Homo sapiens: one gene and its partners. The protein of the gene in region 3 interacts with the protein of the main gene of each other region in a pairwise test. Each region holds a gene or a part of one and is shown on either strand. Other genes may lie near its edges.

Region 1 (5,359 bases), on a different chromosome or scaffold from region 3:
GGAATTGAGAAACTATGCAATGGGCATGTAAGACTTGGCACAACCCATAATCTCTGAGCTAAGGAAGGGAATAAAAACAACCTTCCACATTTTGTGAGGCCAATATGAAGAATCTAAAGAAATGAAAAACTTCTTTTTCCACGGAAATCAGAAGAATGTAAGAAAGGAGCAAGGTAGAACTTGTGCATTCATAGAAGACATAATAGACAGAGGTTGGTGCTTCGGGTCCTGAACTGATGTAAGATAACCATTCACTCATGAAAGGATTGATTGATGCTGGCTCTGAGAGAAATTGAAAAGTCGGGGACCTGGGGCACCTTCTTGGGGCCTCCTACCAGCAGGGGAGTGGTAGAAATACCTCTGATGAGCTAAAAATGTAGATTTCCATGACAGATGCCAACTTCCGAGACTGTGAATCTAGAATGCTCTGAAGACTTGGCTAAGAGACAACAGCCACTTACTGTCATCATCGTTCAGGGATGAAGTAAAGGAGATGAAAACTAGGACATTCTCTTTGACTAGCATCAGTTATGAAAGATGAATAAGTTCAGTAGGTCTAATGTACAGTAATATGACTATAGTTAAAAACACTTTATCATATACCTGAAATTTACTGAGAAGGTAGATCTTAAATATTCACACCAGAAAAATAAAAAGGAAATGGTAACTAAGTGACCTAATAAATATGTTATTCACAATCAATATATATATCAGAGCATCACCTTCTATACCTGAAATGTACACAATTTTTGTTTGTCAATTATACCTCAATACAGCTAGAAAAAAACGTATTTAGTTGATCTATTTAATTAATACAAAAATATTCTTATCTTCAACATAAAACTTGGGAATTTTCTGAACAAAAAACACTAATTCTGTGTTGCCTGCTCTATGATGGGTACTGGATAAATGCTTTGTGTACATTATTATTAACTATTTAACAAACTTTCAAAATAGGTATTAATGTTCCTCTTGTAGAGATGAGAAATTTGAGGCTGAGTTAACGTATAGTCATAGATGAGTTTCTCCCAGAAGAGACTCTGAAAAAAAATTCCAGTGAAACTAGTTTACTGGGAAGTGCAGATCATACTGGTAGGGACTGGGGAAGTGATACAGAAAAGGGTACACTATTAAGTCAGTTTCACAGTCACCAACTAAAGCTTAAACTAAAGTGAAAATTATCAGAAATGATGAAAAACACATAGCTGGTATTATCCTACTTCAGGAATGAGGAAGCTAGAGTCTTTATAAATCAGCTCTCCAGAATCATTGGTTGAGTGTTTTTCTCTGTATTGCATTCACAGGTGGCATGACTTTCTACAGCTGCAATACAAGAGCCCTTAGGCACAGAGATGCAGATTTTGACAGATAGAAATTGATCCAAGCACACTAACATGCAAGATATACGGGTGCAGTCATGAAAACTTGTCTACGATCTACAACTAGCTCCACTCAAGTCAAATATTTGCTACTTAAATAGAATGGACAGCCACAAGCTCTAGGAGAAAGAAGAAGAGGAAGAGAGGAAGCAGAGGAAGAGAAGGGACAGAAGATGAGAGGAGAAGGAAAGAGAAAAGAAGGAAAGAAAAACAGAAAGACAGAGAGAAGGAAGGAAGGAAGGACGGACAGGAGGGAGGGAAAAGAGGGAGCAGGGAGGAACCGAGGGAGGGAAAGGAAGGAAGGAAGGAAGGAAGGAAGGAAGGAAGGAAGGAAGGAAGGAAGGAAGGAAAGAAGGAAGGAAGGAAGGAAAGAGATCGAAAGAAAGAAAGAAAGAAAGAAAAAAGAAAGAAAGAAGAAAGAAAGAAAGAATAGAGAGAGAGAGAAGGGAAGGGAAGGGAGGGAGGCAGGAAGGGAGAAAAAGGAAGGAAGGAAGGAAAAGAAAGAAAGAAAGAAGAAGGAAAGGAAAAGAAAGGAGAGGAAGTGAGATATAAAATGAAGGCCAATTAAATAATCTACACTTACTTCTGCTATAATACAGTGCACCTAAGTTTCATAAACTCCGTTAATTACCAAGAGTTCTATTCTCCCTTCACCCCTGGCCAGCACTCTTTTTGGTCTAGATAACTGCTGATAGAGTAGCTCAGAGCATCCTTCCTGAAGGGTCTGAGCCCCTGGTTACTATACCATTGTCCACCGTGATTGCTGTTTTTATTCATTTGTGGTTATCACTGGGCATGGACACACTATGAGATTCTGCAGTGTTATGGGTTCATTTGCGTCCCTCAAAATCCATATACAAATAGAACCATCTAAAATGTTATCTGATAAGACAAGGTCATATTGGAAACAATTAGGCCTCTGATTAAATATGACTGTGTCTATTCACAAGGGAGAAATTCAGAGACAGTATGGATATAATAGAAAAATTATGTCAAACACACTTGGAGATGATAGACTTCGACACGTCAGGGAGGGAGACCTGGAACAGATACTTCCCTCGCAGTCTTCAGATGAAAACAACATTGCCAACACCTTAATTTCAGAAAAGAGGCCTTCAGAACTTTGATAAATAAATTTAAGCCACTTTTTTTCAGTAATTCATCAGGGCAGTGCTAGTAAATTAATATACTCAGTAAATCTCCTGAGCTATAGATATATTCTGCTACACTATATGGCTTGAGGGTAATTATCCCTCACCAAATAGTAACTACTTTCTCTGTCTGCTGCTTTGCTTATATGAAGAGTCCAAAATGACTAGGCGATAAAGATTACTTTTGTTTATGCCAAAGAAATAGAGAAGCAAATACTATACTTTTTATTCACATGAAAATTTTAAAAAGCCAAAAGTTACCTACAGGATTACAACTGATAGAGTGATTAGCTGTCTTTGGGAAAGAGTAAGAGCATATAATTGGGAGAGAATGGAATTAATTTCTATTTCCTAACATAGATGTAATGGGACATAAATGTATTTACAATATAATACTATATCAAGTTGAAAATTAATAGTTTGCATTTTCTCAAATGAATGGTATACCTAGAAAATGTTTTAAACATGTTAGAACTCCATGATGAATCAGGCATCATCTCAACTCATCTAATTCCTTCATTAAAAAGAAATAGAGAGAGAAGACATGATGCTTACTGTGCTGGTAACTGGGTTGCAGCTAGAGCCAGAGCACATGCTGGTTGGCCTGAATCTCAAGCAGTTATGTCATAGAGAGTCCTACATTCTCGTCCTGGAATCGCCACACTCACAGACAAGTCAGAATGAATGGTCACTCAGGGCATAGTTTGCTTGATGTTGTCTAAATCCCAGTGAATTTCTCTGCATCCCCCTGCTCTCGATCTGCTCTGCCACATGGAACACACTGTGACAGACACCCTCTTCCCAAGTGACGTTCAAATAACGGAAAGGCACAGGTGGTGAGGGTGGTACAGAGAGATGCCTGTTAGTCTTGAGTCAGAATTTGGTGGGTGACTAGCCTTGGGCCCAGGCATGGATTCATTTTGTCACTGTAAATATATCAGCATCATGCTTCTCCCCACAGACACTTCCCAGTCTATATACAGCCAAACATGAGGCTGGCCAGAGAGCTTCCTGAGCCTCCCAGATCAACAGGAACTATCACATGACTAGATGATGGTCAGAATAGGAATGATGCTGATGATGAGACGGGCTTCCTTTTATCTCAAACAAAGTGTCTATGAGTAATTCACAATTAAGAAACAGATTAAACCTTAATCTGTTTAACCTTAAGGAAACAACTACCCTTTGAGAATCACAAACGGACTGTGGAAAACAAGATAAACAGCAACAAGGAAAAGTCCTGCTGATTGGTGGAAACTTTGGAGGCCAGGTGTATAAAAGGTCCAGAATGCAAGGGGTCATCAGATTCTGGGAAACTCACCTCTGAACAGAACTCCACCCTCTACCCCTGACACCATGACCCACTGTTGTTCCCCTTGCTGTCAGCCTACGTGCTGCAGGACCACCTGCTGGAAGCCCACCACTGTGACCACCTGCAGCAGCACACCCTGCTGCCAGCCCTCCTGCTGTGTGTCCAGCTGCTGCCAGCCTTGCTGCCGCCCAACTTGCTGTCAAAACACCTGCTGCCAGCCCATCTGTGTGACCAGCTGCTGCCAGCCTTCCTGCTGCAGCACACCCTGCTGTCAGCCCACCTGCTGTGGCCAAACCAGCTGTGGGTCCAGCTGTGGTCAGAGCAGCTCCTGTGCACCTGTGTACTGCAGAAGAACCTGCTACCACCCCACGACTGTCTGCCTGCCTGGTTGCCTAAACCAGAGCTGTGGCTCCAACTGCTGCCAGCCCTGCTGCCGCCCAGCCTGCTGTGAGACCACCTGCTGCAGGACCACTTGCTTCCAGCCCACCTGTGTGTCCAGCTGCTGCCAGCCTTCTTGCTGCTGATCACGTTCCAAGAGAACCACCATCCTCACACAACAAATTTCTGCTCAACTGACTCATCTTTTGGGGGACTAATTTAATTTGCTGCTGACAGCCACCATGCTCTCACCCAAATTTTTATGAATTCTCTACATGTTTAAAATCTTGGAAATCTGCTTGAGGGAGGGCAGAATACTTCATCCTGATTCTCTTTTTCCTTACACCTTGTGGATCATGTGCCAGCTTCATCTGTTCTCAAGTTTGAGTCATGGTCTCAGCTTTGACTCTAAAGTCAAGAGCTTCATTCCCTGCTTCTAAGGAATTTAGGTTTCTGCAACTGATCGATGATCTTTGCAATCTTTTTTTTGTTTTCAATATCCTCCTCATCGTTCTTGTATCCTTCTTTCTTCTTTTCATGATAAATTTGTGTTGTGTCCCTGGTAGCAGAAATCCTTACCTATATGTTTCTGAATAAATTCTGAACCATCCTCATCTCATATAGTGTTTTGTTTTATTTGAAAGCACTCCTGATATGGGATTTACACACATATCACATACCATAGTTATTATCCAATTTGATTCTCAAAACAGGTGGTCATGCATTATTACCTTCATTTTTCACCTGAAAAAAAATTAATATGTGATGTTATGTAGCTAATAAAGGACAGATTCTGATCCAAGCTGAGGTCCTCTCTTTCTGCCCAAGGACACTTACATTTAACTCTCAACATAGTAGAAATGACATTGGAAGTCAGCACTAGCAAGACATGCACTTGAGTTTATTTAACAATGAGAGGAATGATCTCTTATATTTGCAGATAACATTTTTGTTCACAAAAAAGTTTTCCCAAATAAGTTTCCCACACCTCAGTGAGCAACAGCTGCATGATATGGCAGCAGGGACTGCATTTAATGGCTGCCCTGAAAGCAGGGATCTCTTTTTGTCTCATCCTCTGACCAGTCATTCATTCAATTCATCTGCATCAAAAAATGCTTGAGAATTCATTGTGGACTCAT
Region 2 (7,031 bases), on a different chromosome or scaffold from region 3:
CCCCAGCACCCTGCAGGATGCAGGCAGGTCCAGCACAATGAATGCGCAGCCAGTGAGGCTGATGATACCCATGGGAAACACTGTTCTTGTCCCTCATGGCTGGGGAACCTTCAAACTCTGCAAAGTCCCTCATTACCAAAACAACTGAGACAAAAGGGGGAGTATTTCCCAGGGAAGACACTGAGAGCTTGCCCAGGGACAAGAAAAAGAGCTGTATTACATCAACCCTGGAGCCCAGAGCCAGACACCAAACTCTATATACCCTGTATTGCAACTGGGAAGGCAGGCCAGACCTCCTCCCAGGACACAGAGGGCACCGCAGAGAGCTCTTTTAACCGTGACTGCAGCCCGCAGCCCACACCCCTACAGGCCTGGACCCCACACACCTCACAGGCACAGGGGCTCCCCTTGCACACTCTTCCCTAAACCTGGGCCACCAAGAGGCACCGGCAGCTCTAAGAGCAGCAGTTGGTGCTGCCGCTGCTCTGCTTACCCCGATCCCAGGCTCCAGGCTGTGGTAAGAAGGTGCATAGCAGCAACGCAAGGCCAAGCCTCACATGCCAAGCCCTCAGCTCTGAGTGCTGCAGCTGTTGGGCCAGGAGTTACAGAGCCCATGGCATCAAATCCCCTTGTGCCTGTTCCACACCCTGCCACCACAGCCCTGGGGCCTCCCTTGGCCCTATCAGTGCTCAGCCAGGCAACTCCTTACTCTTGGCTCTCACTCATCTGTTAGCTGGTGCTCCACTCTATCCCATGTTAGAGATACACCCACGCTCCTCACCAAAGCCTCGCACTGGGCATAAGCACTCCTGGGCCAAGTCCAGTTCAGTTAATAACAAATGCCCACAGCATGATGCTTTGGAGTAGGGCAGATCTGGTAGGCGAGGCCCAGCCCCACCAAGTACTTGCTGCGTGCCTTCAGGGTATGACCTGCCTGCACTTCTGTATCCCCACCTGCAAAATGAGGACAGCAGCAGTTCCTCACAGGAGTGCTTCCATCAGGTACATGTTTGTAAGGCACAGGAGAGTAACCAGGAAATGCCCACACCTGCCCCGACCCTTACGTGGGGGTGGCCCAGCTCGCAGTGATCAGCCCCAAACGCTCGTCCCACCCTTCACACCAAACTCCATCTGTCCTGCCCTGACACCACGCAGGAGGCAAAGTCTCGAGAGAATTCCAAATGGCTGTCCTTGGAGGGAGGGGTGGCTGAACACTCTGTTTTTGAGGGCACAGTGAAGTCTGCCCAGTCTGGGCTTGTTCCTCTCACCGCAAGCTGGGAAAGGCTGACCACCAGGCAGTGCGGCAGGGGTTGAGGGTGGGTGAGAGGAGACACAAGTCAGAGACGGGAAGTGCAACGGACCCTGCTGGGAGCCACAGCAGCACCAAGCAGCGGGGAGGAAGCAGACACAGAGGGGCACTCAGAGAGGAAAACGCAGTGGGCAGCAGGCAGGAGCCGCCCCTGCAGAGTCTCAACCCCTAGGCAGGTGTCCACTCACCTTTCTCCACCTGAGCCGTACACGCCTCCTTGCATCATGTCTGTCTCCAAATGCGGCACCATATCTAAGCGCTGGTTAATTCTGGATAAAACGGAATCGGCACTGGCGCTACCCGAGGCACTAGTGTTTGCATTTGTGTCAGAGCTAGGCATTTCCCAAGAGTGTGAAGTGGCCATACCATACCCATAGTTGGTGGTGTTATCCTGGCCATAGCCATAGCCATAGCCATAGCCCTCGTAGCCTGCAGTGAGGGAGACAGAGACAGACAGATGGTGGGGGCAGGCAGAGGGGAGGCAGACAGAGACAGAGACAAACACAGATACAAGGGTATCTTCTGTCACAGAGAGAGAAGACCCTAGCCACTGAAGCTAGATGGGCCCTGGTCATTCTGATGAGGGCCTCCTGTTAAGGAGTAGGTAACCCCAGAAACATGCCCCCTCCCCACTCCCAACCTTGGCCAAGCAGGGCAGTGGCAGAGAAACACAGCCAGGACAACCCCAAGGGACAGGACAGCAATCACAGGAATGACACTTGCCTCTATTTGTCCCAGAGTTCCAAGTTCCATATCCTACAAAAAGTAAAAGGGCAGTTACATCTATACTTGCTTACAATACAAGGCCATAATTCAGGCGCAGACAATTATTCCCAGGACCTGACTGGTCAGAGCAGGCTGCACCTCCCCTAACCGAGAAGCCTTGAGCTCGCGAGCACTGCGCAAATGACCCAGGCCACTTGCTGCCCTGGTGCCTGGCTGCCTGTGGCTCTGAGCATCTGTTATTTAAGGATCCTTCTGTTCCCAACACTCTCAACTAAGGAACTTGGCTCCTATACTCCTCCCTTTAAGAGCCAGAATTAGAAGGTGACCTCCACACCCCAAGCTAAGTGCTAATCAGTTTATAGCAGAAAACCCAACCCCAGTCTCCCAAGAGTCTGCCTTAAAAGGGAGGGCCAACAAGCCCTTGAATTGTTGACTGTGCTGTGCTGGAACACATCAGTGAGAGAAGCCCAAGAAGCAACCCCTCGCTTGAGAAAAGCTGTGGAGAGAACAATCTGGATTATCAACTTAATATGCTCTGGATTCAATCACAACACATGATAAAACCTCATTCCTTCAGTAACATAAAGCCACTGAGAAGTGACAAAGTGTAAAGTCCCCTGGGAACTCTGAGTCAAACACACAGTTCCTCCCCAAAGGAGGGCACAGAGCAGGTGACCCCTTTCCCTGGGTCTCTGGTGAGACCCAACAGTTGTTTCCCATTCCATGTCATCTCTGCCCCGCAGAGGACATGCTCATCCCAGGGCAGGGGACCGAAGCTCAGTGAGACAGACAGCAGGGCAATAAGTGGCAGAAGCCAGACCACAGCAGGAAGAGTGTAAGTCAACTGAAAAGATGAGCCAGAGAGAACAGGCAGGCTGTCGTCCTGCACTTGGGTTCCTCCACGACCCAGTGCACAAAAAGAATGGGAAGAAATCAGAGAGAAGCTGAGGAACTGCTGATGACCACTATGTTTAACAAGAGAGCTCACAAAACAAAAACTCTTGGGCTGGAGAAACCAAAACAGGCTTCTCATCCATTTGTTTATGTATCCCCTGAGCACAGGGAACAGAGGCTTGCAGTCCCAGGCACTGCTCAGGCATGGAGATCTGCCTGTTGGTAAGAGAGATGCTAACAGCCAGAGAGCAGCATGGGTAAGTCAGGAGTGGTAGCTGAGGAAAGAATGGAGCCATTCTAAGAGGCAAGAGAGGCTGGCAGAGCCACATAAAGAAAAACACACAAGGCTGGGTGCAGTGGCTCACGCCTGTAATCCCAGCACTTCGGGAGGTCGAGGCGGGCGGATCACCTGAGGTCAGGAGTTTGAAACCAGCCTGGCCAACATGGTGAAACCCCTTCTCTACCAAAAATACAAAATTAGCCAGGCGTGGTGGTGCACACCTGTAGTCCCAGCTACTCAGGAGGCTGAGGCACAGTTGCTTGAACCCAGGCGGCAGAGTTTGCAGTGAGGTGAGATCGCGCCACTGCACTCCAGCCTGGGCGACACGGTGAAACTCCATTTCAAAAAAAAAAAAATAGAACAACACACAGGTAGCCCAGGCAGCTACTGTACACCTGGCCAAGTGACTGTTTGTACCAGGGACAGTGGGCACTAGCTATTCTAAAGAAAATAGGAGTTGGGCGTGGTGGCTCATGCCTGTAATCCCAGAACTTTGGGAGGCCAAGGTGGGTGGATTACGAGGTCAGGAGTTCGAGACCAGCCTGGCCAATATGGTGAAACCTCATCTCTACTAAAAATACAAAAATTAGCCAGGTGTGGTGGTGCGCGTCTATGGTCTCAGATGCTTGGGAGGCTGAGGCAGGAGAATCACTTGAACCTGGGAGGTGGAGGTTGCAGCGAGCCAAGATTGCACCACTGCACTACAGGCTAGGCGACCGAGCGAGACTCTGTCTCAAAAAAAAAAAGAAAGAAAAGAAAAAGAAAATAGGATATGGAGGCAAAAGCAGATCCATCAGGGCTCTGCTTGGGAGGCTACAATGTGGTCACTGCAAGCTTCACCTGCTGAGGATCTGCCACAACAGAGTGAGGAGGCACAACGAAAGGAAGCAGCATCAACTCCGTGAACACCACTTTACGTTTTAAGGACAAGCAGGGCCTCCCACGATGGGCAACTCTCAGGAGTCCCTCCAGGCAAACACTCACTACATGCCACTTGCTATGCCTGGAGCAACCCAGACTCCTTGATGGACATCCCAGCTGGGTCCCTTCAGGAGGAAGCCTTCATCTAGACTGGCGTTTAGGGACTCCCCAAGACCTGCCCTTTCTGAAAGAACACCCCAACTCATTTCCATCCCCAGAAGGGATGAGATCATGGTTGACAAAAGAAATTTTAAGGAGAGAGAGAGAGAGAGAGAGAGAGAGAGAGAGAGAGAGAGATCCTTAAAATTTATATATTTATTATTATTAAATATATACATATATATGTAAAAATAAGATATATGTACATATATATTTTTGAGATAGAGTCTTGCTCTGTCCTCCAGGCTGGAGTGTAATGGTGTGATCACAGCTCACTGCATCCTCGACTTCTTGGGTTCAAGTGACTCTTCTGCCTCAGCCTCCGGAGTGGCTGGGACAACAGGCATGTGCCACCATGCCCAGCTAATTTTTTCTATTTTTGTAGAGATAGGGTTTTACTATGTTGCCCAGGCTGGTCTCAAACTCCTGGGGGCTCAAGCCTCCCATCTCAGCCTCTCAGAGTGCTGAGATTATAGGCATGAGCCACTGCACCTGGCCCCAAGGACATAATTTTTAAAAGAAAAAAGGACATGGTCACAGTATGTGATATTTATGGACCAAAAATAGAAAACAATTTAACACTCAACTTTAACGTAATAGTTAATCAGATTACACCTACCTACTCGGTGACATATCATGTAAGCATATAAAAAGAATTTACTATGCCTTATGTGGCACAAGGAAATGCTTCTAACATAAAATAAAGCAGGACCAGCCAGGCGCAGTGGCTCACACCTGTAATCCTTTTGGGAAGTGGGGCAGGCAGATCGCTTGAGCCCAGGAGTTTGAGACCAGCCTGGGCAACATAGCAAAACCCCATCTCTAGAAAAAATACAAAAAATAGCTGGGCATGGTAGGGCATGCCTGTAGTCCCAATTATGCAGGAGGCTGAGGTGGGAGGGCTATCTGTGCCCAGGAGGTGGAGGTTGCAGTGAGCTGAAATTGTGCCACTGTGCTCCAGCCTGGGGGACAGAGTGAGATCATATCTTAAAAAAATAAAATAAAATAAGAGCAGTACCCACAATTCTATCCACCTATAAATTATTAAACTACACAAAATCAGTAAGCTGATAAAAATTAAACATTAATATGGTAGGATCTTGGTTGACTGTTTTTCAAAATGTTATTTAAATGTTATATTGTTCTTGCAATTCAAGCCAGAAGGAAAAATAAATCCATCTCTATTCTTTCACAATTGTGTATGTAAAAAAATCTCAAACAAATCTACAAAAGAGCTACTAGAATAAGTGAGCTTAGCAAGGTTTATTACAAGGTCAATCTGTAAGTCAAATTTCAAATATTACAAGGTAAACCTACAAATCAAATAGCAATCAAATTTCTATATATCAGCAATGAATGGAAAGTTTTTAAAAGTACCATTTCCTATAGCACTAAAAGCATGAAAAACTTGGCGTAAATCTAACAAAGTATGTGTAGGATCTGTGTTGAAAACTACAAAACACTACATCAGTGAAGTGACATACTGCACTCATGAATCAGAAGACTTGATATTGTTAAGATGTCAATTTTCTCAAACTAATCTATAGATTCTACAGATTTGATAGATCTATAGATCCAAGGCTCTCTCACTCAAAATCTCAGCATGAATTTTTTAAAAAACTTCATAAACTGATTCTAAAATTTATATGCAAAAGCAAAGAAACTAACAATTTTGGAAAAAAGAACAAACCTGGAGGACTCATATTTCAAGATTACTATTAACCAGTAATCAAGACTGCATTGCTGGGCGAGGCGCAGTGGCTAATGCCTGTAATTCCAACACTTTGGGAGGCCGAGGCAGGTGGATCATGTGAGGTCGGGAGTTTGAGACCAGCCTGGCCAACATGGTGAAACCAGTCTCTACTAAAAATACAAAAAGACCGTGCTGCTGAACGAAATTTAGATGTACAGACCAATGGAACAGAATGAGAGTCCAAGAGTCCAGAAATAGACCCACAGTATATGGTCAACTGATTTTCAGTAAAGGTACGAAGGCAATTCAATAGAGAAAATATAGGCCTGGCACAGTGGCTCACACCTGTAATCCTAGCACTTTGGGAGGCCAAGGCGGGTGGATCACCTGAGATGGGGAATTCAAGACCAGCCTGGCCAATGTGGTGAAACCGTCTCTACTAATAATACAAAAATTAGCCAGGCGTGGTGGCACATGCCTGTAATACCAGCTATTTGGGAGGCCAAGGCACAAGAATAGCTTGAATCTGGGAGGTGGAGGTTGTGGTGAGCTGAGATCGCGCCATTGCACTCCAGCCTGGGCAACAAGAGCGAAACTCCATCTCAAAAAAAAAAAAAAAAGAAAGAAAGAAAGAAAGAAAGAGGCCGGGCGCGGTGGCTCACGCCTGTAATCCCAACACTTTGGGAGGCCGAGGCGGGAGGATCACGAGGTCAGGAGCTCGAGAACATCCTGGCAAATACGGTGAAACCCCGTCTCTACTGAAAATACAAAAAGATTAGCCAGGCGTGGTGGCGGGCAACTGCTCGGGAGGCTGAAGCGGGAGAATGGCATGAACCCAGGAGGCGGAGCTTGCAGTGAGCTGAGATCGCGCCACTGCACTCCAGCCTGGGGGACAGAGTGAGACTCTGTCTCAAAAAAAAAAAAAAAGAAAGAAAAAATGGTTTTGTTTTTGTTTTTGTTTTTTAAACAAATGGTGCTGGAACAATTATATATTTATATGCCATAGAAGAATAAGAAACCTTAACCTATACTGCACACCTTGTAGAAAA
Region 3 (7,031 bases):
CGGTCTTGCTCTGTCATCCAGGCTGGAGTACAGTGGCGCATTCATGGCTTACTGCAGCCTCAACTTCCCAGACTCAAGTGTTCCTCCCACCTCAGCCTCCTGAGCAGTTGGGACTACAGGCGCATGCCACCACACCCGTCTAATTATTTTATTTTTTTGTAAAGACACGGTCTCTCTATGTTGCCTAGGCTGGTGTTGAACTTCTGGCCTTAAGTGATCCTCCCGCCTCAGCCTCCTAAAGTGCTAGGGTTACAGGTGTGAATCACTACATCTGGCCTAAATTTAAAAAAGTTTTTAGTCTACATCCAGTGACCTATCAGGGATGCTTGTTATTTTATACAAGCTGCTTTGTTATCATATCAGCATTCTCTTCAGCCAGCTCCAAGGCAGATAGTCACCCCTCTCTCTGTGTGGTTGGGGTGGGAGCAGGCCCCGTGGAGGGAGCGGTGCTGAGGACATGTCCCTGGCGTTCCGATGCTGCTCCATCGAGGACCCCCTGGCCTCAGGAGGAAGGAGCAGGCGATGCAGCCCCTTAGTGTGGTCGTGTTGACTGACAGGTGGCTGATGCCTGAGCGCGCCCTCTTCTTCCATCTTAGGAGACACCGTGGTGAAGAGGAAGCCTGCTTCTCTGATGGCCCCTCTGAAGCGGAAGGAGGAGTTCTCCTTGTTCAAGGTGTCTGATGATGAATATAAAGTAACAATCTCGCCTCAGCTGCTCTTGGCCACCCAGCGCTTCCTGTCCCGAGGTGAGGCGGGAGGGTGGTCCATGCCCCCTGCTCTCCTCACCGTTCTGTGGGTCAGGAGGCCGCCCAGGGCCGACACTGACTCTGCTCCCCACTCCTAGCAGGCGGGTGCGTCTTGAGGACTTCTGTGTTCTCTGCAGCCCTGCCAGCATCTTGGGTCATGGGAGAGACACCTCCTCTCTGCCAGATGACCAAGAGCAGGGCCAGGCCAGTGCCACGCCTGGTGCACCACAGCCAGGGGGCCTCAGCTCTCAGCTGGGCGGATGTGGGGTGCCCTGCCCAGTTCTTTTTTTTTTTTTTTTTTTAAAGATAGGGTCTCGCTCTGTCACCCAGGCTGGAGTGCAGTGGCACGATGTTGGCTCACTGCAACCTCCGCCTTCTGGGTTCAAGTGATTCTCCTGCCTCAGCCTCCCAAGTAGCTGGGATTACAGGCGTGTATCACCACGCCCAGCTAATTTTTGTATTTTTAGTAGAGGCGGGGTTTTGCCATATTGGCCAGGCTGGTCTCCAACTCCTGACTGCAGGTGATCCACCTGCCTCAGCCTCCGAAAGTGTTGGGATTACAGGCGTGAGCCACCGCACCTGGCCCCTGCCTAGTTCTCTTGTGTTGAGGTGTTAGGGGCAGCTGCTCACAGGCCACCCGGGAGATCCCTGGTGGGCACAATAACTTTAAATTGCCTACAGTGTTGGGTGTGGTTCCACTGGCCACTAGGCCCCAGTGGACACTGTCCCTTTTTTCCACCACGTGCAGAAGTGGATGTATTCAGCCCGCTGCGCATCTCTGAGAAGGTCCTGCTGCACCTGTTGAAGCATCCCAGTGTCAACCAGGAAGTGAGGTTTGACGAGAGCAACCGGCTGGCCACACACCACTACCTGTACCAGCGCAGCCAGCCGGTGGATTACTTCATTCTCATCCTGCAGGTAGCTGTGGGTCCCAGGCCTGGAGTCCCTCCTGCTTCCTCAGGCCAGGGAAGGGTCTAGGAGAAGAGGGGAGCAGGGGCATGCGGATATGCACCCTCCCACCCCAAACAATTGAGGTGGTGGGTTTCTCCTTCCGCTGTCTTCTGACGGGAAAGGTAATCTGGCCGCATCTGTTTCTCTCCTTGCCACTCCTCCCAGGGCAGGGTTGAAGTGGAGATCGGGAAAGAGGGTCTGAAGTTTGAGAATGGGGCCTTCACGTACTATGGAGTGTCGGCCCTAACTGTGCCATCCTCGGGTAAGCCACGGCCCTGCTGATGCTGAGGGCCAGGGTGGAGGCTGCAGAGCCTGTCCCCCATCATCACTTGGGCTCTCAGTGCCCCTCCTCACCTCTCCTTCCACCTGAGCCCACCACCCCACAAGGTGGTGTAGCCCCTGGGCTTCCAGGAGGGAGGGCAGCATTCTTCATCGCTCAACTTTGTGGCCCACTCCACCCCTGCAAAACCTCTCCCGGCTGTGTTTGTCCTTCTCTCCCAGCTTCCCATGCACATTGCCTCTCCAGAGTGATTGGTGGGGTGGGTCTTCGAAACTGTACAGTTGTCCCCACCAGGGGAGGAGGCTCCCAGCTGCCAGCATGGCTCCTGCCATCACTGATTGTTCCTTTGATAGTTCACCAGTCCCCGGTGTCCTCGCTCCAGCCCATCCGCCATGACCTGCAGCCCGACCCAGGTGACGGCACGCATTCATCTGCGTATTGTCCCGACTACACCGTGAGGGCGCTCTCTGATCTGCAGCTCATCAAGGTGACTGCCTGGGCTGCTTGTGGGTGCTGGCTTTAGCCGACTTTGTGTCACCGGGGGCTAGACCAGCTGGTCTGAGACTGCCCGGAACAAGGCCTTCCACTCATCCTGAGGGACACAGACCTTTGCACCCAGTTTCCAAGCAAGGTCTTAAAAACACTTGACTCAGTTGCTCTTCTCTGCCCTTAACTAGCTTAAAGTTGTGCCTCTGTCCTCTTCGGGCACGGTGTCACCTTTCCTGCCTACCTTCTGCATCTCGCTTCACCAATTGGGTCCCAGTAACGCTGTCATCCTCCAGGTTACGCGACTGCAGTACCTCAATGCACTCCTGGCTACCCGAGCCCAGAACCTGCCACAGTCCCCTGAGAACACCGACCTGCAGGTTATTCCAGGCAGCCAGACCAGGCTCCTTGGTGAGAAGACCACCACAGCGGCAGGTGAGTGCCAAGTGGTACATCGTGCATGGTGTCTGGACCTGAGGGCCGTGAGCTCACACACACAGACTTGCACTCTCGCCGCCCCCCCACCCTCTGTCTTTTTTCTCTCTTTTCTCCCCATCCTTTTCCCTTCTTTATATATATATATCTATATATAAATAATTTTTTTTTTTTTTGAGATGGAGTCTTACTCTGTTGCTCTGTTGCCCAGGCTGGAGTACAATGGTGTGATCTCGGCTCACTGCAACCTCCGGCTCCTGGGTTCAAGCAGTTCTCCTGTCTCAGACTCCTGAGTAGCTGGGAATACAGGCGCCCACGACCACGCCTGGCCAATTTTTGTATTTTTAGTAGAGATGGGGTTTCACCATGTTGGCCAGGCTGGTCTTGAACTCCTGACCTCAGATGATCCGCCTGCCTCACCTTCCCAAAGTGCTGGGATTACAGGCATGAACCACTGTGCCCAACCCCCTTCTTGCTTTTTTTTTTTTTAATTCATTATTCAACTTGAACTTCTTGCTGTCTTTAATAGCATGGATGACACCAAACTATAGACTAACTGGTATTTAGAGTAGAGTATAGTAAGTCGGTATTTCTCTCAAGGACGTCTTAGAATGGATTGACTTAATCAGAGATTTGTTGGGAAGTGGGAATAAGTTTTAGTTCAGACACTCTTTTGGCCATTTAAGATTAAGTTTAGGTCACTTTGAGTCAGCAGTGGCCCTGGCTTAGAGGGTGTGTGGCTGGCAGACACCATCCTAGACACTAGAAGGGCATTTGTGAAGAGTTTGGTCAGTTCATACTAATATTTAAGCGTGGCCCATCCAGTGCTCCACTGCGAGCAGGAAGATTGTGTTGGAAGAAATTTTGCAAATCGAACTAAAGGTTGTGGGATATGGAACCCCATCCCCACACTGCAAGGAGGGAGGTGAAAGAGTCTGAAGTGTAGGCTGTGGGTAGGAGTGGTGAAGGGTTTCTTGTTCTTGTTTTTCAAGAAGATACTTTAATTCTGATTGCGTTCCTAAGGTTGGGGTCAGAGATATGCCTGAACTTGAGATTCCTGGAAGAGCTGGTGGGGCTGTGGAGGGAGCTGCAGGCTTGCCTCCTCCCACCCCCACCTGCCCCACCACGAGGAAGACAAGCTGTTATCAGCACTTCCTCTGCCAGGCACTGTGCTAGGAGCTTCCATGTCTAACTCTGCTAACCTCCCCGTGGCCAGAGGGCTGCTAGCTGTTCTGCCTGTTCTACAGGGCAGGAATGAGAGCCAGAGAGAAGGCCCAGGGACTCTGACCTGCTTCCTGTAGGCCTCCCGTGGAGCCACTGTGGCTGCTCAGACCCACACTCGAGAGCACAAACATGTTTTTCTAATAGTCCTTTCTGAATTGTGAGGTCACATGCAGGTGCAAGGGACAGAAATCCCACCCTGGGCCATGTGGATGCTTCAGCCCCTGTGGGCTCCAGATCTGGGTGTTGGCAAAAAGGCAGCGGGTGAGGTCGTGCTGCTTAAGTCTTGGATCTGGGGATGGGTTGCATCTCTTCCTAAAGAGATCTCTCTAAGGATGGTGCTGCACTTTTTTTTAAGAGATAAGGTCTTGCCATGGTGCCCAGGCTGGCTTCATACTCTGGGCTCAAGTGATCCTCCTGCCTCAGCCTCCAAAGTAGCTGGACGAGTAGCTAGTGCCGCACCTTTTAGGGTTGTTGAGGCTTCTGTGCTTACCCACTGTGATGGTTTCTTATTGTATGGGGTGCCCCTTCTACAGAAGTTCACATTGTCACATTACACTGGGGTCTCAGAGGCCAAGGTTTTAAAAATGGGAGTCTTTTGGTTTTGGTTCTCCCACATGTGAGCCTTTTTCTGGCTCACTGCTACTCAGACTGCACGTGTTGTAGTGAAGATACAGACCTAATCCCAAAATAATGCTCTTCCCATCACTGCACACCCGGAGATTTTTAAATAATCTTCACTGGGCCGTCCTGTAAGAGAATAGTTGATAGTGGCTTTGTGGGTCATTTCCTCTTTGTAATGGATTATTCTCTAGACACAATGTTGGTTATTTTCACTTAAGTACAACCTGACAGTTGCTTCAGTGAGGCTGGCCTGCTGTCTTTCTGTTTCTTGCCTGAACTCGGGTTGTCCTGCATTTTGTCCCGTGAGCTTGGCACTTCACTGTCCGGAGGAGCGTAGGGCCGCTGCACACCTGGAGATTTTGGTGGGGCACTGCTTAAATCATGCAGATGAGAACCAGTTTCTGGAGACCTTGGCACTAGACGCCCAGCAGAGAAGTGCCTTTTTTGAGACTTGGAAGACACAATAATTTTAAATTGCCTACAGCAGGGGTTGGCAAATAGTGGTGCAAGGGCCACATCTGGCTAGCAGCCTATTTTTGAGAATGAAGTTTTATGAGAACCCACACATCTGTTTGTAGATTGCTATGGCTGCCTTTGAGTTACAGCAGTGGAGCTGAGTAGCTGTGACAGAGACTATATGACCTACAAAAACTAAAAATATTGGTCCTTTACAGAAAAAGTTGTCTGACCCCTGGCCTACTATTTCAAATCCTGGGTAGGTCCTCCACGTCAGTTCTTCATGGAACTGTATTGCCGAGGGAAAGGCAGTCCCCACACTGTGCAGCCCTCCATGCTGTGCTCCTGGCTTTCTCTGCCATCCTGAGCCGCAGGCTGTGGGGCAGCGCAGCACCAGCACTGCAGCTGCCAGCTCTCCCTCAGCTTCCCCTGCCCGGGGCACCGGCCCTCTCCATGGTGCTGCCCGGAGCCAAGAGGCACAACCATTTCTGCTCAATAGCTTCTCCTCTTCTTTCTCTCTCTGCTCTCTTTAGCCTTCCCAGTAGACCTTTCCCTCTTTGGCACAGTTGGAAACTGCAGTTGATAAATGACTGTGGACTAGTGCGCGTTTTTTGTTTTCAGAGCACACGTAAGGTAAATATCTTCCCTCTCCCTGCCCCTTCACTTCCCTTTCCTGGCCCTTCAGCTGAGGGAGGAGCAGAGCCCATGGCTCCCCAGGCTGGGGGGCATTTTTCTCCAGGGGTGTGGGGTGGGCGCTCCCTTCCATCCTTCTGGAAGACAGGAGGGGTCATGAGACTCCTCCACTGTGGAAAATGGTGCTTCCTTCCAGCACAGGGTGCTGTATCGTCCCGGGAAGGTGCCTCTTGTTCAGCATAATGACCTGGGACCCTCGGGGCCAGAAATCCACAGCCCCAGCTTCCCCGTCTCCCAGGGAAGGCATCTGTTGGCTGACCATCTGCTAACCAGTCGCTCCTGTTTCTGCTCTGATACTTCCCAAGGCATCCCGAAGCACCTGTCTTAGCTGCCCCTTCCTGTCCCACAGAGGATTTGGCACTTGGTTTTGACAGGATACTTTACCAGCTTTGATGTTAATTCTCCTTCCCTTGTCTCCTGTAGGGTCCAGCCACAGCAGGCCCGGCGTCCCGGTGGAAGGCAGCCCTGGGCGGAACCCAGGCGTTTAACGGCTCACTAGGCAGCCCCAGATCTGGGGAACAGATGAGCACGTGGGGAGCTGGAGTGAGCTGAGCAGAAGTTTTGTGCCCGCCTGCCCCCATCCCCTCCAGGCCACGTTTTAGATGGCCCTTGTAGTTGCGGGTCCTGGGTGTCCTCAGAACTAGACATCAATGCCTGGATCCTTCAGCCGGCCCTGCCCTCCTTTAGGAGACAGGAGTCACCAGGGCACAGCCCTCCAGGCCCGCCTCAGGAAGGAATGAAAGGAATGCCATCATCTCTAGTTCCCAGGGCCCAGCCTTCCCCTTCTCCCCCGGGGCAGGGACAGTGCGGCATATTCAGATTCAGACCTCTTTGGGCTGAGCCACCTTGTGAGTGCAGTTACTGCCTTTGTGTGGCCGTGACCTCTATTTGTTTGCTTTTAATTTGCCAACCTATCGCTGCTGGCAGCACTTTTTGAGCAAGCCGAGAGCACCCATTTTGGCTGGGGGTTCAGATCGATGGCCTTGTCCATGTTGTCCTTTCTGGCTTCCCTGATGGTGTCATGTTTCAGCGCATGCGCCCCAGCCTTTCCCATGTGCCAAACCAGAAGCTCCACTGCCCGTAGGCTGTCCCTGTAGCCCTGCTCCCTCCCTGGAGGCTGCTCTTCTGATTCTGAGAGC
Region 4 (7,031 bases), on a different chromosome or scaffold from region 3:
GTGAACATGACCTACCAGCCTACAACACCCAGTAGCAGTTTTCAGGATGTTAGCGTGTTCGGTATGGATGCGGGGTCCCCCTTGGTAGTTCCACCCCCTACTGATAGTGCACGCTTGTTGAACACGTCCCCCAAAGTGCCTGACAAGAACACTTGCCCCAGTGGGATCCCCAAGCCTGTCTTCACACATTCCAAGGACACACCTTCCTCGCAGGAGGGAATGGAGAACTATCAGGTTGAAAAAACAGAGGAGAGGACAGAAACTAAGCCCATCATTATGCCCAAGCCCAAGCATGTGAGGCCCAAGATCATCACCTACATCAGGAGGAATCCCCAGGCCCTGGGCCAGGTGGACGCCTCGCTGGTTCCAGTGGGGCTTCCATATGCCCCGCCCACATGTACCATGCCTCTTCCCCACGAAGAGAAGGCAGCAGGTGGTGACCTGAAGCCATCTGCCAACCTCTATGAGAAATTCAAGCCAGACCTGCAGAAGCCAAGGGTCTTCAGTTCCGGATTGATGGTGTCTGGAATCAAGCCCCCGGGACATCCTTTCAGTCAAATGAGTGAAAAGTTTTTGCAGGAGGTAAGAGAATGTCATTATGATATGGTCTATAAGTTGACTGTCCCAATATCTGTGACATATTTTCAATGAGTTATGAAAGTAAAATGTCCTCTTTAAGTGAATTACAGATTTTCATGGATACACTTGTGAAGAAATGGAGTTTTTGACTAGAGGAGATTGTCTAGAGAAATGACCATTTTTAACTAGAAGAGTCTGATTATCTTAATAAGATGTACCCAATATCTAAGGAGACCCATTTAAATTTCACTTGCTATAATTCATATGAAATTAGATGAGTATGCCTTAAATAGGCTTCCATGTTTAAATAAGTGAATATAATATAATATAAGCCAGGTTAAAGGAAGAAAGAATGCAAAATTACTGTGTTCTTCAAATAGATCAGACTCATTCCTCAATGGGGAGTATTTTCTACCTGGGAGTATCTCTTATTCGCATGCGTGAAGAACAGCAAATGAGCAGAAAACGGTGTGTTAGGCATGGACTCTTTCTTTAAAATAAAAGTAATAATTACAACTAACATATAATTGAGGGCCAGCTCTACACTGGGCCCATATAATACAGCGTTTGATCTTTGTTAATCTTCACTAATCCTTGCAGTAATTCCCTGAGGGTTGGTATTGCAGTTTTTTGTTTGTTTATGTTTTTTTTGGCTTTTTCTTTGTTTTTGAGATGAAGTCTCGCTCTGTCGCCCAGGCTTGAGTGCAGTGGCGCGATCTCGGCTCACTGGAAACTCCACTTTCTGGGTTCACGCCATCCTCCTGCCTCAGCTTCCCTAGTACCTGGGACTACAGGCGCCCGCCACCGCGCCTGGCTACTTTTTTGTATTTTTAGTAGAGATGGGGTTTCACCGTGGTCTTGATCTCCTGACCTCGTGATCCGCCTACCTCGGCCTCCCAAAGTGCTGGGATTACAGGCGTGAGCCACCGCGCCCAGCCGGTATTGCAGTTTTTATCACCGTATAGATACAGAGACAGACAGAGAGCTTTAAGTCACCCACCACAAAGGAAGGAGAGCTCTGAGAGTCTCACTCAGGCCTGTGCAGTTTCAGACTGCACTGTGCTGTCCTTTTTAGCTATGGTGAGTCATCCTTCGAGACCTCAGAACTAAGATTTGTCTCCTGAAGGAGTCTCTTCATGACAGCTGAGTGATCAGTTAAAAGTAAGGCAGGAGCCAAGGACAGCGGCTCACACCTGTAATCCCAGCATTTGGGAAGCCGAGATGGGCAGATCACAAGGTCAGGAGATCGAGACCATCCTGGCCAACATGGTGAAACCCCGTCTCTACTAAAAATACAAAAACTAGCTGGGTGTGGTGGCATGTGCCTGTAGTCCCAGGAACTGGGGAGGCTGAGGCAGGAGAATTGCTCGAACCCAGGATGTGGAGGTTGCAGTGAGCTGAGACCACGCCACTGCACTTCAGCCTGGCAACAGAGCGCGACTCAGTCTCAAAAACAAGGGCAGGATGAGATCATCCTGTCTCTAACACCTTCCAGGGCTGCCCAGGTTGCTTGGAACACAAGCTGGAGCCTGTAGGATGGCTCTGCCTTTAGGATGGGATGTGCTCACTGGGGGTCCGTCAGCTACCTGCCCTCCTCTCCTTCCACTCTCCCTTTCTCACTCTGCTGCTTCAGGACCTTTGCACCTCCCTCTGCTTGGAATGTTCTCCCAGTTATCCAGATGGCTCTCTCCCTCACTCCCTTTAGGTCTGTGTTCCAATGTTATCTCCTTGGGAAGGCCACCCATCTTCTCTCTGAATCCCTTTTCTCTGATTTATTTCTTCCTAGCACCTACCTCCACCTGCCATAAATACTTTTTTAGTTTTCCTGAATTGACTATAATGTAAACTCCATGAGGGAAGGGATTGTTTTCAATATTTTGTTCCCCGTGTTCCCAGAATTTAGAATGGTGCTTCTTATAAGTATGTGCTCAAAAAATGTTGAGTGATAACTGAATCATGAACTCCATATGTGTTGGAACTAAACAAAAGTGTACCAAGGGTTTCTAGAGATAGGATGATTGAGTCCAAATTTGGACTCTAGCTTGGTTAGATATATTGGCATATTTAAAGAATGCATCAATCACAACAGAAGTTGTCATATCTAGCACAAAGACAAAGTTGAATCCATTCTCGGCAGCAGACATTGACTTAGGCAATCACTGACGAGGTGCCCCAACAAGCCGACCAGCTGTGCTGCCTTGCCGCAGGTCCTTAGCAACCAAATCACACAGCTTGCTCCCTGTGTTCTGACTCTGGGCCTGCCAACAGGCCTCTGATTATAACGGACTTCCTACCTCACATCTCTAGAGAGAGGATTCTGGCTGGAGAATTCAGGGGTCCAGTCAGCTTGGCAGGGGTTTGTCTTGCTGTGCGGGGCTGCATGGCATCTTGTTTATAAGTGGCTTCTTACTCTGTGCCCTGCAATGAGAACGTGTTCTGGCTAGAGGACACTTGAGTCTGGCTTTAGGCAGTGGTCTCCAATTAAAAGTGAACAAATTGCCCTTCTGGATTTTTACGTCAGTCTCTGAGTTTAGTTATAGTGAGTCATTTTCAAATTTCTAAACATTCATCCACCTGGGCCTCTGAGGCTCAGGGTCAGGCTCTGAAGCTTTGCTCTTCTATAAGGCAGGGAATCACTGCAGAGGTTCCATGAAGAGACCTGTCAGTCCATTTGTGTTGCTATGAAAGAATACCTGAGGCTGGGTAAATTATAAGGAAAAGAGGTTTATTTGGCTCATGGTTCTGCAGGCTGGAGAGGAAGCATGGCACCAGCATCTGCCTATGGTGAGGCCTCAGGCTGCTTCCACTCAAGGGGGAAGAAGAAGGGGAACCACGTGTGCATTGATCACGTGGTGAGAGATGAGCAAGAGGGGAGTGGAGGAGGTGCCAGGCCTCTCTTTAAGGACCAGCTCTCATGGGAACTAATAGAGCAAGAACTTGCTCATTACCAAAAGGAGGGCACCAAGCCATTCATGAGGCATCTGCCCCCATGGCCCACACACCTCCCACTAGACCCCACCTCCAACATTGGAGATCACATTTCAACATAAGAGTTGGCACAGACAAGCCAACCATATCCAAACCATAGCCAGAGCCTAGATTTTTCTCTATAAAAACAAACTCATGAGGGAAATTGATTTGGATATGTAGGCCCAAACCCCACATTGTCTGTAATTCTTTCTTTGTGCCCTTCTATATTTTCGTGTATATTTCTTTTCTGTGTTGTTCTGCTTCCTCCAAGAATAGTTTATATATTACATGCATAGTTTTCCCCAAACTATTTTCTCTACTTCATTATCTAGGCACCACGTCAAGACTCAAGGAAATGGGATTGTATGGACATTGTGTGGCTTTGGCGGTTCTGAGGGGTTCAGAGAGACCCCACTGGTGTGGAGAGAGCATCATGGCCTCGCACCTCGAGCATCCCAAAGTCTTCTTCAAAGAATTTATTTGTTTTTGGGCCTCGACTTTACAAGTTCGTTTGAAATGTCAGTTTCCCTCCCTGTATCTGGGGACCATTTTCTGCCATCATCAGAACGAGACCCAGGCCTCTTCTCAGGTTGCGCTGGGCTCATTTCTGTGGTAACCTTCTTTACTCAAAAGTGGGGAACAGGCTGGTCCTTGGCCACCTGCTACAGCTATGACATGATGTAACCCAGCGAGTCCCCCTCTTGTGTTTGAGCTCAGTGCAGGGAGAAAAAACAGCCGACTTCTTCTGCCAGTGTGCCCCAAGCTCATCATGGGGTGGCTGCAGTCTGGTCTCTAGGAAAAGAACACATTTTTGATAATGTGTTGCAATGGAAGTATTTTTCAGTTATAGAAGCCAGATTTTTTTTTAAATAAAATGAGAACCTCTTAAAAATAAAAACTCAAACCAGCTTCAGACTCTTCCATCCTTATCGACAGATCCCTGCTGGTTACATAGCATGGGTAGAAGTGGAAAAATCAAGAGTAAGCACTCTTCTGAGAGAGGAACTCTTTTCCCAATTGGCAGGAACAGCACAGGCATTTAAAACTTCCAGAAGTGGCTTCCAAGATCATCTGGGATCTAGTCATGTCCAGGTATTAAATATGTTTACCTAAACAGGTGCCCTCTGCCACTGGCTCTCCTGAGGTCTCAGGGACACTCCCTCCCTCCAACAACTTGGGAGCCCTTTTTATTTTTGGTAAAGGGAGGTGGGAAGAAAGGGGCTTGGCTGAGAGGATGGAGTGAGGCGATGTGCGTGCAGTGTACAGAGGTGTGATCCAGGGCTGCTCTCCTTCCTCACTGTCTGCTGCCACTCATCTCTGGGGGGCACTGCATCGATTGGGGTTTGCCAGACAAATAGAACTAATAGGTGTGTGTGTGTGTGTGTGTGTGTGTGTGTGTGGTGTGTGTTCACAGGTCTATATTCATCTATACTTATGTCTCTCAATATATATTATCTATATATGTTTCAATATATATATCTCATATGTAGAGACAGATATAGATGTATATATAGAGAGGGTACATCACATAATCTCTATATATATATATAGAGAGAGATTGATTGACTGATTGATTTTAAGAAATTGGCTCATGATTGTAGAGGCTGGCAAGTCAAAAATCTGCAGGGCAGGACAGCAGCCTGGAGACTTAGGGTAGAGTTGGTGCTGCAGCTTGGGTCTGAAGGTGATCTACTAGCAGAATCCCCTTTTCTTTAGGAGGAGTCAGTCTGTTTTTATTAAACCCTGCAACTGATTAGATGAGACTCACCTACATGCTGAAGGGTCTGCTGCTTTATTCAAGGTCTGCTGATTTAAATGTTAATCTAATATAAGAAATACTTTCATGGCAGCATCTAGAATGCTTGACCAAATATCTGGGTATTGCAACCCCACCAAGTTGACACATAAAATTAACCATCCCAGACACCCTTCCCCCACCACTATCCCAGTGGCTTGTTAACAAAGCCTTCACCTGTACCCTCTGTCTCCACGGCACACTATCCCATTGAGGACAGTGCAGGGCAAATAGGAAGAGGGACAGCCTGGTAAGAATGTATTTGTTCATATGCCTTGACTTAACGAGTTTGTTTGAAATCATAGGGTTCTTTTGTTTGCTTTCAAAGTGAGTTCTCTAAAAACCCTCCATTGGGATGGAGGGAGGGGAACAGCAACGTTTGGGGTTTCCAAACGTTGTTTTATGACTGTGCAGCATCACCTGCTGTATTCTGTCAGTAAAGATGAAGGAAAAGAGTATGAAGCTTTCTGTAGATTCCCTTGTTTAATTAAAAATGCACAGACTAGACATCAAAGGCGCAGTTTTCCCCCTTTTAAAGAATTTGCGATCTCACCAGAAACAAATTACCCAACAAAATGACAGGCATTGAAGTTACTGAAATCCTTAAGATCATTGTTGAGAGAGAATGTGGTGAATTTTAATCCCTAAAAACAACTCAGTTTCAAGGCACTGAGTAACTACTAAGATCAGCATATTGCAATCCTAAAACCTGACAGATGTAGTTTGGAAATGATATTAATTTCTTCATAAGAGCACCTGCTCAAAGCAATGTGCAATGGGACCCAAAATTTAGAAACTAAAATTAAAAAAGGGTATATATGAGAAAAACCAGAGATTGATAGTGAGAGTAAGTAGAGAATGGTAAAAAATTTATCAGAGTGCAGATGTAGAATGTTCTTTCATAGGAATATAATTTGCTATAGCCAAGGACTATCTACTATAACAGTCATGCATATTTTACAGTGTGATTATGATAAAACTTTAAAGGCCTAATCTTTTGTTTCTACAATGTCAATTTGAAGGAGGACTTTGTATCTATTTCAACATTAAATGAGTATCAATTTAAGGGTTTATCTCTTCAACAGCTTGGATCAAAGCTTTTATAGCCCCCATTAAAGAATACTGTTAAATGCTTATGATTCCTGAGATATAAGTTTGACACATAAAATGTGCTGTGATTTAGAACAGAGTTAATTAACAGATGTATCTTTTCATGCATGGCCCTTAGCACTATTTTTTATTGTAACTTAAAGGAATAGTTTATTTAGTTCTCTCTCTTTTTTTCCTGTTTAATATTAATAAAACACTGATAATATGAACAGACTTAGTGAGTACAGAATTGCATATATAAAAGGTACTGCCCACAGGTTGTATTCTAGGCCAAACTGCTAGCTACAGGAGAAAGTGACAGTAACGTTATGTTATTATTAAACTTAGGAAAAAATGGAAACATGATTCTTCAATAAATATTTATTGACTTTAGCTATGTGCTAGACATTGTTTTTGGTGCTATGAAGTCAGCGGTTGATGAGATTGTGCCCTAGAACTTCCATTCTGGTGAAACTTGCTCAAACCTTCCTGGGAGCATCGCCTCACTCGAGCAGACGACCAGAGGAGATAACTCAGGCTCAGGTTTTTAACTAGGTAAACACATAGTACAGATCTGAAAATACATTTTCCATTAACT

What was found.
Region 1: the proteins of CNNM3 (region 3) and KRTAP9-8 interact in binary tests that used the Homo sapiens proteins (3 or more experiments, as listed by UniProt).
Region 2: the proteins of CNNM3 (region 3) and AKAP8L interact in binary tests that used the Homo sapiens proteins (3 or more experiments, as listed by UniProt).
Region 4: the proteins of CNNM3 (region 3) and MTUS2 interact in binary tests that used the Homo sapiens proteins (3 or more experiments, as listed by UniProt).

The regions. Positions count from the first base shown.
Region 1 is NC_000017.11:41,234,166-41,239,524, forward strand, and holds KRTAP9-8 (keratin-associated protein 9-8), read left to right. Parts: upstream 1-3,833; 5' UTR 3,834-3,886; coding exon 3,887-4,366; 3' UTR 4,367-4,839; downstream 4,840-5,359. UniProt on the Homo sapiens protein: In the hair cortex, hair keratin intermediate filaments are embedded in an interfilamentous matrix, consisting of hair keratin-associated proteins (KRTAP), which are essential for the formation of a rigid and resistant hair shaft through their extensive disulfide bond cross-linking with abundant cysteine residues of hair keratins.
Region 2 is NC_000019.10:15,401,978-15,409,008, forward strand, and holds part of AKAP8L (A-kinase anchor protein 8-like), read right to left. Parts: intron 2,066-7,031; coding exon 2,033-2,065; intron 1,739-2,032; coding exon 1,498-1,738; intron 1-1,497. UniProt on the Homo sapiens protein: Could play a role in constitutive transport element (CTE)-mediated gene expression by association with DHX9. Increases CTE-dependent nuclear unspliced mRNA export.
Region 3 is NC_000002.12:96,826,237-96,833,267, forward strand, and holds part of CNNM3 (metal transporter CNNM3 isoform 1 precursor), read left to right. Parts: intron 1-596; coding exon 597-746; intron 747-1,494; coding exon 1,495-1,664; intron 1,665-1,862; coding exon 1,863-1,959; intron 1,960-2,330; coding exon 2,331-2,464; intron 2,465-2,759; coding exon 2,760-2,898; coding exon of another isoform or gene 2,899-3,056; exon of another isoform or gene 3,057-5,732; coding exon of another isoform or gene 5,733-5,782; exon of another isoform or gene 5,783-6,315; coding exon 6,316-6,380; 3' UTR 6,381-7,031. UniProt on the Homo sapiens protein: Probable metal transporter.
Region 4 is NC_000013.11:29,026,322-29,033,352, forward strand, and holds part of MTUS2 (microtubule-associated tumor suppressor candidate 2), read left to right. Parts: coding exon 1-582; intron 583-7,031. UniProt on the Homo sapiens protein: Binds microtubules. Together with MAPRE1 may target the microtubule depolymerase KIF2C to the plus-end of microtubules. May regulate the dynamics of microtubules at their growing distal tip.